Homo sapiens: one gene and its partner. Changing the gene in region 1 together with any one later gene gives a genetic interaction. Each region holds a gene or a part of one and is shown on either strand. Other genes may lie near its edges.

Evidence for each region.
Region 2: changes in NPR2 (region 1) and CA9 together harm fitness less than expected from each alone (positive genetic interaction), as found in Homo sapiens cells (one large-scale study listed by BioGRID).

Annotation. Positions count from the first base shown.
Region 1 is NC_000009.12:35,790,151-35,794,390, forward strand, and holds the start of NPR2 (atrial natriuretic peptide receptor 2 isoform 1 precursor), read left to right. Parts: upstream 1-1,440; 5' UTR 1,441-2,258; coding exon 2,259-2,925; intron 2,926-3,747; coding exon 3,748-3,953; intron 3,954-4,240. UniProt on the Homo sapiens protein: Receptor for the C-type natriuretic peptide NPPC/CNP hormone. Has guanylate cyclase activity upon binding of its ligand. May play a role in the regulation of skeletal growth.
Region 2 is NC_000009.12:35,672,723-35,676,727, reverse strand, and holds the start of CA9 (carbonic anhydrase 9 precursor), read right to left. Parts: upstream 2,801-4,005; 5' UTR 2,769-2,800; coding exon 2,366-2,768; intron 1,191-2,365; coding exon 1,161-1,190; intron 968-1,160; coding exon 797-967; intron 665-796; coding exon 522-664; intron 432-521; coding exon 339-431; intron 1-338. UniProt on the Homo sapiens protein: Catalyzes the interconversion between carbon dioxide and water and the dissociated ions of carbonic acid (i.e. bicarbonate and hydrogen ions).

The DNA.
Region 1 (4,240 bases):
GCCAGATAGGACAAAATTCCTTTTCACTGCAGTATTGGGAGCCTGGAACTAGAGTTACCAACCCCTCTGCGTTAAAGAAGGAGCTGTCCTGAGGCTTCCATCTCTACTGGGCTTGAGGCAAGAACATTGTTAGGGACGGCCTGCTCTTGGCCTCTGTGCCCCAGGGATTGCAAATGCATGTTCCTCAAAGGTAAGGGCTGTATCATTCGGCTTTCTTTGTATTCACAGGTACAGCTTGTGCTAGGCAGCCGGTGTTCAATAAATATCGTGCCTAAGGATAAAGTGGCATTGTCCTTAATTTCCCCCACCAAACCACTAGGTGTCGCCTTCATCTCAGGGAAACCATGCCCGTCCTCGCCCTATACACTCCCACCCCACTCCAGGGCTCCAGGAGCGCTCTTAGCTTGTGATTTCTGGAGAAATAGCTTGAAGGGGGGAGAGAAACCGTGGCTCTTAGCGCGGGCAGAGAATGGGCTTATGTGCATGTCCTTTATGACAGTTGGAGAAAAATCCCCAAGGTCCCATAGCAGTCCCTCTCAGCCACCATGAGATCATCCCTCACAAGCTGTTCTTGGGGTCAGATTGGCACTCCAGATATGAGGGCCCTAGGGAGAGCTTCCTAAGGGAAGCTGGGAGCAAGGTGGAACCCCAGGAGAGCGTGGATGGGCTTCCACTGCGGGGAGTGTCCCGCCGGTCCGTTACAGGCTTTCCCCAGGCGCCAGCCTGCGCTGTGCAGGAGACAAAAGAAAATCGAGGCCCTGACTGAGCAGATGGTGCGGAGGAAGCCGGGCGGGCTGCGGTGGGCCTCTGAGGACACGAGGAGGGCAGGGGGCATGGAGACAGCGGGGGGCCGAGAGTTGAGTCCCAAGCAAGAAGGAGCCTCGTGGACTTTCTAAGGACTGGTGGGAAGTGTACAGCAGGGGCCCCTGGCTGCTGGAGGGGCCCGTCCAGGGAGCGGGCATGGTCCGCGGTGGAGTAAGCCGCACTGCCGTCGGGAGGGCGCTATGGTTTGCTAGGTGAGGGGGCTGGTGAGGATACCACACGTCTGGGGATCCTCGACTGCTTCCTGGAGACTGGAACCACTGAGGGACTCAGGGAGTTCAGAGGGGAGACCCAAGAAGAACGGGCTGAGCGAGGGGGAGAGGACAAACCCTGGGGTCGCTGGCGTGTGTGAGATGGAAATGGAAGGAGGGGCGGCAGGGGGACCAGGGGCGTGGGGGAGACCAGGGTAGGCCCTGAGAGTGAGGGAGCGCCCGGGAACCCTGCTGGCCGGCGAGGCCTTGGTGCGGAGCCCCCAAGTGCTCACCGGGGTGGGTTTGGGACCTGGCGGTCCCGAGCGCCCGGGTGGGGGGTGGGGGAAGGCAGCCGGCGCCGGAGGGTGGGGCCGGGAGGGAGGAGGAGAGGCAGCGGGGGAGGGGCGGGGGCGGGCGGCCTGCCCGGGGGAGTCGCACTCGGCCGCCGGCGCAGCGAGCGGAGACGGGCCGGGCCGAGGCGACCTGACCCGGACGAGCGGCGCGCGCGGGGCCCAGGCGGGGGGCGGGAGGAAGCGCCGGGCAGCGCCGGCCGCCAGGGCCCAGGAGAAGCGGAGCAGAGAGGAGCGGGGACACGGGCGGGGCCGCCGTAGCTCCGGATGGGACCAGCGCCCGGGCCCGTTAGTCCAAGCAGGAGCTCCGGGAGAATCCTTCACAGGGAGATTTACCCCTGCCTTCCCCTGCCCTCCGGCCCAGGCCTCGCTTCGCTCCCCGCCTGCCCATGATCCCAGTCCTTCCGCGGCGCGGGCACCCTCCCACCTTACCCCCTTGGTCCTATGTGGCGCAGCGCCCTCCTGCCCTCCCGGCCCTTTCAGCTGTGAGGTTCCCCCAGGCCGTTTCTTTGTACCACCCGCCCCCCACCCCCACCCCATCCCAGTCCCAGATCCCCTTTTCCTTCTCAGCTTTAGATTTATCAGGCTTCTTCACCTCGCACTGTCCCCATCCTGGCCGCAGGCCCCCTCGGTCCCTCCCTCCCCCTGCCACCCCGTTCTCAGTCCTCAGTCCTTGCCCTAGGCTGGTAGCCCACTCCTTGCCCGCCCCCCGCCTTCCTCCCATCTCCCCCTCCTCTCCCCGGCCCCCAGCACCTTCTGCATCCCAGCCTACCTAGCCTACTCCTCCTCTTCCTGGCCCTCTTCCCCAGGCTCCAGGCTGGGGGGTGCTCGCGTCTCCCCTGTAGGCCAGAGCAGCCCCAAGTTCTGGGGGCGGTGGGGCTGCTGCTTTATCCCCATGGCGCTGCCATCACTTCTGCTGTTGGTGGCAGCCCTGGCAGGTGGGGTGCGTCCTCCCGGGGCGCGGAACCTGACGCTGGCGGTGGTGCTGCCAGAACACAACCTGAGCTATGCCTGGGCCTGGCCACGGGTGGGACCCGCTGTGGCACTAGCTGTGGAGGCTCTGGGCCGGGCACTGCCCGTGGACCTGCGGTTTGTCAGCTCCGAACTGGAAGGCGCCTGCTCTGAGTACCTGGCACCGCTGAGCGCTGTGGACCTCAAGCTGTACCATGACCCCGACCTGCTGTTAGGTCCCGGTTGCGTGTACCCTGCTGCCTCTGTGGCCCGCTTTGCCTCCCACTGGCGCCTTCCCCTGCTGACTGCGGGTGCTGTGGCCTCTGGTTTTTCGGCTAAGAATGACCATTATCGTACCCTGGTTCGCACTGGCCCCTCTGCTCCCAAGCTGGGTGAGTTTGTGGTGACACTACACGGGCACTTCAATTGGACTGCCCGTGCTGCCTTGCTGTACCTGGATGCTCGCACAGATGACCGGCCTCACTACTTCACCATCGAGGGCGTCTTTGAGGCCCTGCAGGGCAGCAACCTCAGTGTGCAGCACCAGGTGTATGCCCGAGAGCCAGGGGGCCCCGAGCAGGCCACCCACTTCATCCGGGCCAACGGGCGCAGTGAGTGTGGCCTGGGCTATTTTAGGGTCATGGGAGGAGGGTCGCTGTGTCCCTAAAGCTCAGCACTGGGGAACTGTAGATGGAGATAGGCATTGAGCAGCTGTATGTGGTGGTTGGGATCAAGAAGCACACGTGGACAGAGCACCTGTGAGAGGGCCAAGGCTTCATCATGGGAGCTTGTGAACACCCTAGGCAGATGCAAACAAGGAAGAAGAGAGCATGAGGGGTGAAGCCTTGTATCAAGGTGGAATGTGAAAATGAGGGGATATTAAGTTTCGGGAGCAATGTTTGTGCCCTAGAGTAGTGAATGTGATTGATAGCCACTCTGAAATGTGCCCTGTCTGTGATCAGAGCTACCACCCAGACTGGGCGCCAAGACCCCTTGGTGGTGTAAAAATAATGAGGGCTCCATGAACGGACTCAGGGCTCAGCAGATTTGGGAAAGACAGATAAAGCTCATACTGAGAAATCTGTGCTGTCTGTGCCTTTGAGCCCAGGGAAGGGCAGGGAAGAGTCAGGGAGCAGGCCGGTTGGGTGGGGAGCAGCAAGGGAGGCTCTGGGAAAGGGAGGGGCTTGAGAGTGACAGCTCCCTTCCTCTGGGGTCTGGACAGGCTCTGACTTCTGCCAGATGGTCCATATGGCCCCAGGGTACTTATGGTGGACTCCAAGAGGGGTGGGCTGGGGAGCATCTGCTTTGGGGTTGATAGGTTAGGGCACTCTCTTTCTTGCTGAAGAGGGACATCCCAGTGATTCAGAGAGGGGGCTGTGTGGGGGACCTGGATACCTTCTCAGGGTGCTCCTCTGTCATGTACCTGCTCCCAGTTGTGTATATCTGCGGCCCTCTGGAGATGCTGCATGAGATCCTGCTTCAGGCCCAGAGGGAGAATCTGACCAATGGGGATTATGTCTTCTTTTACCTGGATGTCTTTGGGGAGAGTCTCCGTGCAGGCCCCACACGTGCTACAGGCCGGCCCTGGCAGGACAATCGCACCCGGGAACAGGCCCAGGCCCTCAGAGAGGCCTTTCAGGTATCATTTGAGCCAAATCTGAAGGAGGAGGGGGAAGAGGTGCTTCGCTGGAAATTCTCTCTCACAAGACCCTAAAGAAACCCTAGGAACCAGGCAGGAATTGTGAGCCACAGGAGTAAAATGAACAGAGGCATTCTGAGTCTAGTGTCACCCTTTCTTACTTCTCTACTTTTGTGACTCTTAGTGTGCTTGCTGCCAAGACTGACTTTGGCTGCCTCCAAAATCCTAAAACACTGACTTTCCTAAGTGCCAGTAGTAGGCTATATTGTGGGGGAGAAAAGTTCAGG
Region 2 (4,005 bases), 120 kb from region 1:
GCAATGAACACCTCCTTTTCTTTTCTACCAGTGAAGGCTTTAAGTGTCACCTCCTCTGTGACCACCATCTTTACTATGTCCTTCCTATGTGTCTGTCATGTCAGCCTCCCCCACTGGCTGTGGGCTCCTTAGAGGCAAGGACCTACAGCTTCAGAATCCTTGTTGGGGGCTGGTGCCTGGTTCACAGTGGGTGTTAAATGAACAAACAGTGCGTGAATGAGTTTGTCAGCCAGGGGCCTGAGTGAGCTTGCTGGGATGGGGTCTCTGGCTCCACGATAGAGTCCGGGAGGAGCATGGGATGGGAAAGCGGGGAGTAGGGGGTGTCCAGGATCTGGTACCTCCAGAAAGGCGGCCAACACGGCCAGGCCTCCCGGGCGCCCCAAGGCCTCGTCAACTCTGGCAAAGGCGGTGCTGAGGTGAACCACGTGGATCTGAAAAGGACACGAGGGTAGGAGAGGGCCACGTCTCTGGCCCCGCTCCGCCCCGCTCCTTTGCCCCTTCTCGGCCAGCTCCGCGCTCACCTCGGCAGGGAAACGGTGGCCTTCCACAGTGTGCTCCGAGCCCGGACGACCTGCAGCCCCCCAGTGCAGATGCAGCTGCAGAGCCCGGTACTCCCGCCCGGGACCCAGAGCCATCTCTAGCCCAGGAGGCAGGGTCAGTTGCACTGCGTAGGGAGAGGCAAGTGAGCCGGCCCCGCCCGGTAGGGCCAGCCCAACCCCCGGGCAGGCACTGCCGCGACGGTTCCCTTCCCTGCGCCCCGCCCCATCCCCAAGTCTCGGCGGGGAGACCCCCTCACCACTGTGGCCATTGTTGCGCAGGCGCAGTTCTGGGAGCGGCGGGAGCTGGAAGCCCAGGAGTTCCAGGGGGCGCAGGGCCGGGCAGAAGGCGGCGAGCTGGGGGCGGATATCCACCGGGGACTGGAAGCGGCCCGCGCAGGCTGGGGACACCCGGGGCCAGGGCGGGTCGCCTGGGGTGGGAGAGTATAGTGAGGAAGTCTGACGCCTAGGTCAGGAACTTAGGGAACCCGGGTAGAAAAGGTGAGGGGGTGGGACGGTGGGCGGCGGGTGGGACGCCCGGGACCAGTGTTCAGGGACGGCTGTAGGGGAGATCCACAGAGCTGGGTTCCCAGATTGGGTCTGTGCAGCGGGTGGGTGTCTCACCTCCATAGCGCCAATGACTCTGGTCATCCCCTGTATAAATGAAAAGGATGAACCGCTCAAGCTTAGAGCCCCAATCCCTTCCTGGCGACCAAAACGATGTCACAAACGCAGATGCCTTACAGGAGCATTACGGGTAACAAATGCCTTAAGCGGGCCAGGTGCAAAGCACAGGAGACCGCACCCAAACTCAACACCGCAGCTGGGTGGGCCAAACAGCAATCCTACCAGCTTGCAATCATTGTCTTAGGGTCTGTAAAAGTGAGTGGCTGCTTCAGGCCAGGCGCTGTGGCTCACGCCTATAATCCCAGCACTTTGGGAGGCCAGGGTGGTTGGATCACCTGAGATCAGGAGTTCGAGACCAGCCTGACCAACATGGCGAAACCCCGTCTCTACTAAAAATACAAAAATTAGCCGGGCGTGGTGGCGCATGCCTGTAATCGCAGCTACTTGGCTAGAGGCTGAGGCAGGAGAATCACTTGAACCCGGGAGGTGGAGGTTGCAGTGAGCCGAGATCGCGCCATTGCACTCCAGCCTGGGCAACAAAAGTGAAAGTTTGTCTCAAAAAAAAAAAAAAAAAAAGTGAGTGGGCACTTCAGTCCTGAGTCCCAAATGAGTGAGTACACCATCTTTCCTTTCTCCCTTCTTTCTTCTCCCCACTCATCCCTCTGCCTTGTATGGTCTCCAACCCCTTTCCCCAAATTCCTGGCTTGGGAGTCAAGAAGCCACGTTTCTCTACCTGCTGTGTCCCTTCTTCCTAGGTCTCAATTTCCTCATTGTAGCCTAAGATGAGATGACTTCTACCAGCTCTTCTTGCTTGTCTCTGGTACCCACTTCACCTCCCAAGCTTTCCTTTTCTCTTCCCCTCAAACTCTCTGACTCTCCTTCTCCACCTATTTTTTTCCTCTGTCTGCACATTTTTTCTCTCATCTGCAGTTCTCATCCCTTTCTCTTCTCCAGCCTCCCCCTTCTCTCCCATCTCATCCAGCTCACCTCTCTCCTTTTGCACCCTTTTTATTTTCTCTCCACATCTGTCCCTTTCTACCTCCGAGAGTGGGGATGGGGATATTGGTATGGGACCTCTGGAAGGGCTTCTGTGGGGAGTACAGTCTCCCCTCCTTCCCTGAGTGAACAGAGCCTAGGCTGGGGTATGGGAGGGGAGTCATGAACCTCCTGGAACCTGGATTTGGAGATTGATGACCACTTACCTTCTTTGTCCCTGTGGGCATTATTCTGGGGTTCTTGAGGATCTCCAGGAGCCTCAACAGTAGGTAGATCCTCTAACTTCAGGGAGCCCTCTTCTTCTGATTTAGGCTTAACTTCAGGTAGATCCTCCTCTCCAGGTAGATCCTCCTCTCCAGGTAGATCCTCCTCTCCGGGTGGATCCTCCTCTCTGGGTGAATCCTCTTCACTGGGCAGATCCTCCTCGCCCAGTGGGTCATCTTCCCCAGAAGAGCCTCCTCCCAAGGGGGAATCCTCCTGCATCCGGGGCAACCTCTGGGGATGGACAGGCACCAGAAGCAGCAGTGACAGCAGCAGTTGCACAGTGAGGCCTGGAGCAGGGGCCGGGATCAACAGAGGGAGCCAGGGGCTGGGGCACAGGGGAGCCATGCGGCTGACTGTGGGGTGTCCCAGCACACGGTGTGTACGGGCTGTACGTGCATTGGAAACGAGAGCTGGGTGGGGGAGGAGCAAGCCTGGAGGGGAGCAGGCTGACTCACAGAGCGCCCTTTTGCAGAGATGGAGCCAAAGTCTCACAGGTTTGTCTGGCCCTGTGCCCTCTCCCCCATACCAAAGCTAGGATGGGGGTGGAGTGAGGGGCAGGTGTGTGCACAGGCAGAAGGTTATCGGGGCCATGGACTCAGCTTGGAACCCAAGGCACCACCTGGCACTATGCAGGCTCTCCCTGGCACCACCCAGCTGCTTGCCAGCCAGCCTCAGCTAACCCTGGCCTGCTTCCCAGCTCCAGGCACAGAAGGGGAAAGGCAGGGGAGCTGGGGCCCCCATGTCCTCTGGCTGAGAGGGAAAGCAGCTCATGTATACATCCCTGACTCCACCAGGAAGCAGGTAAAGAGGTAGGGCAGGCTGCTAGGGGAGCCCGAGGGTGAGTTAAGTAATGGGTATGTGGGAGACAAACTTGAGCTTGAATGAAAAGCAAGTGTATGTGTCAGAGGGGCTCTGATAGGTTTAACCTATATTTATTTTTCAACACATTACTCTCCTGCTCAAAAGCCTTCATTGGCTCCCCACTGCCTGCCACGATATGCACATTGTGTACTTCTGACTTCCAACTTCCTTCAAAACCTTGCCCAAGAGACCTTTCCATCTTGTCTCCTACTACTCTCCCTCATACTCTAGCCAAATTAAACTATTATTTTTTTCTCCAAACCTTTTACCACCTTTGTTAATCTAGTTCTTGCTCCCTGAAATGCTATTTACTATTGCATTCAACAAATATTTATTTAGTACTACCATAGGTCCAGCACTGGGCTATGGACTAGGGACATGGAAATGAATAAGACACGGTCCCTCATTTTGGGAGGCTGAGGTGGGTGGATTGCTTGAGTCCAGGAGTTCGAGACCAGCCCGGGCAACATGGCCAAACCCTGTCTCTACTAGAAATACAAAAAAATTAGCCAGGTGTAATGGCATGTGCCTGTAGTCCCAGCTACTCAGGAGGCTGAAATGGGATGATGGTTTGAGCCGAGGCGGTTGAGGCTGCAGTGAGCTGAGACTGTACCATTGCACTCTGGCCTGGGTGACAGAGCAAGACCCTGTCTCAAAAAAGAAAAACAAAAACAAAAACAAAAAACGCTACCTGCCCTGAGCAGCTCACAATCTAGTGAGT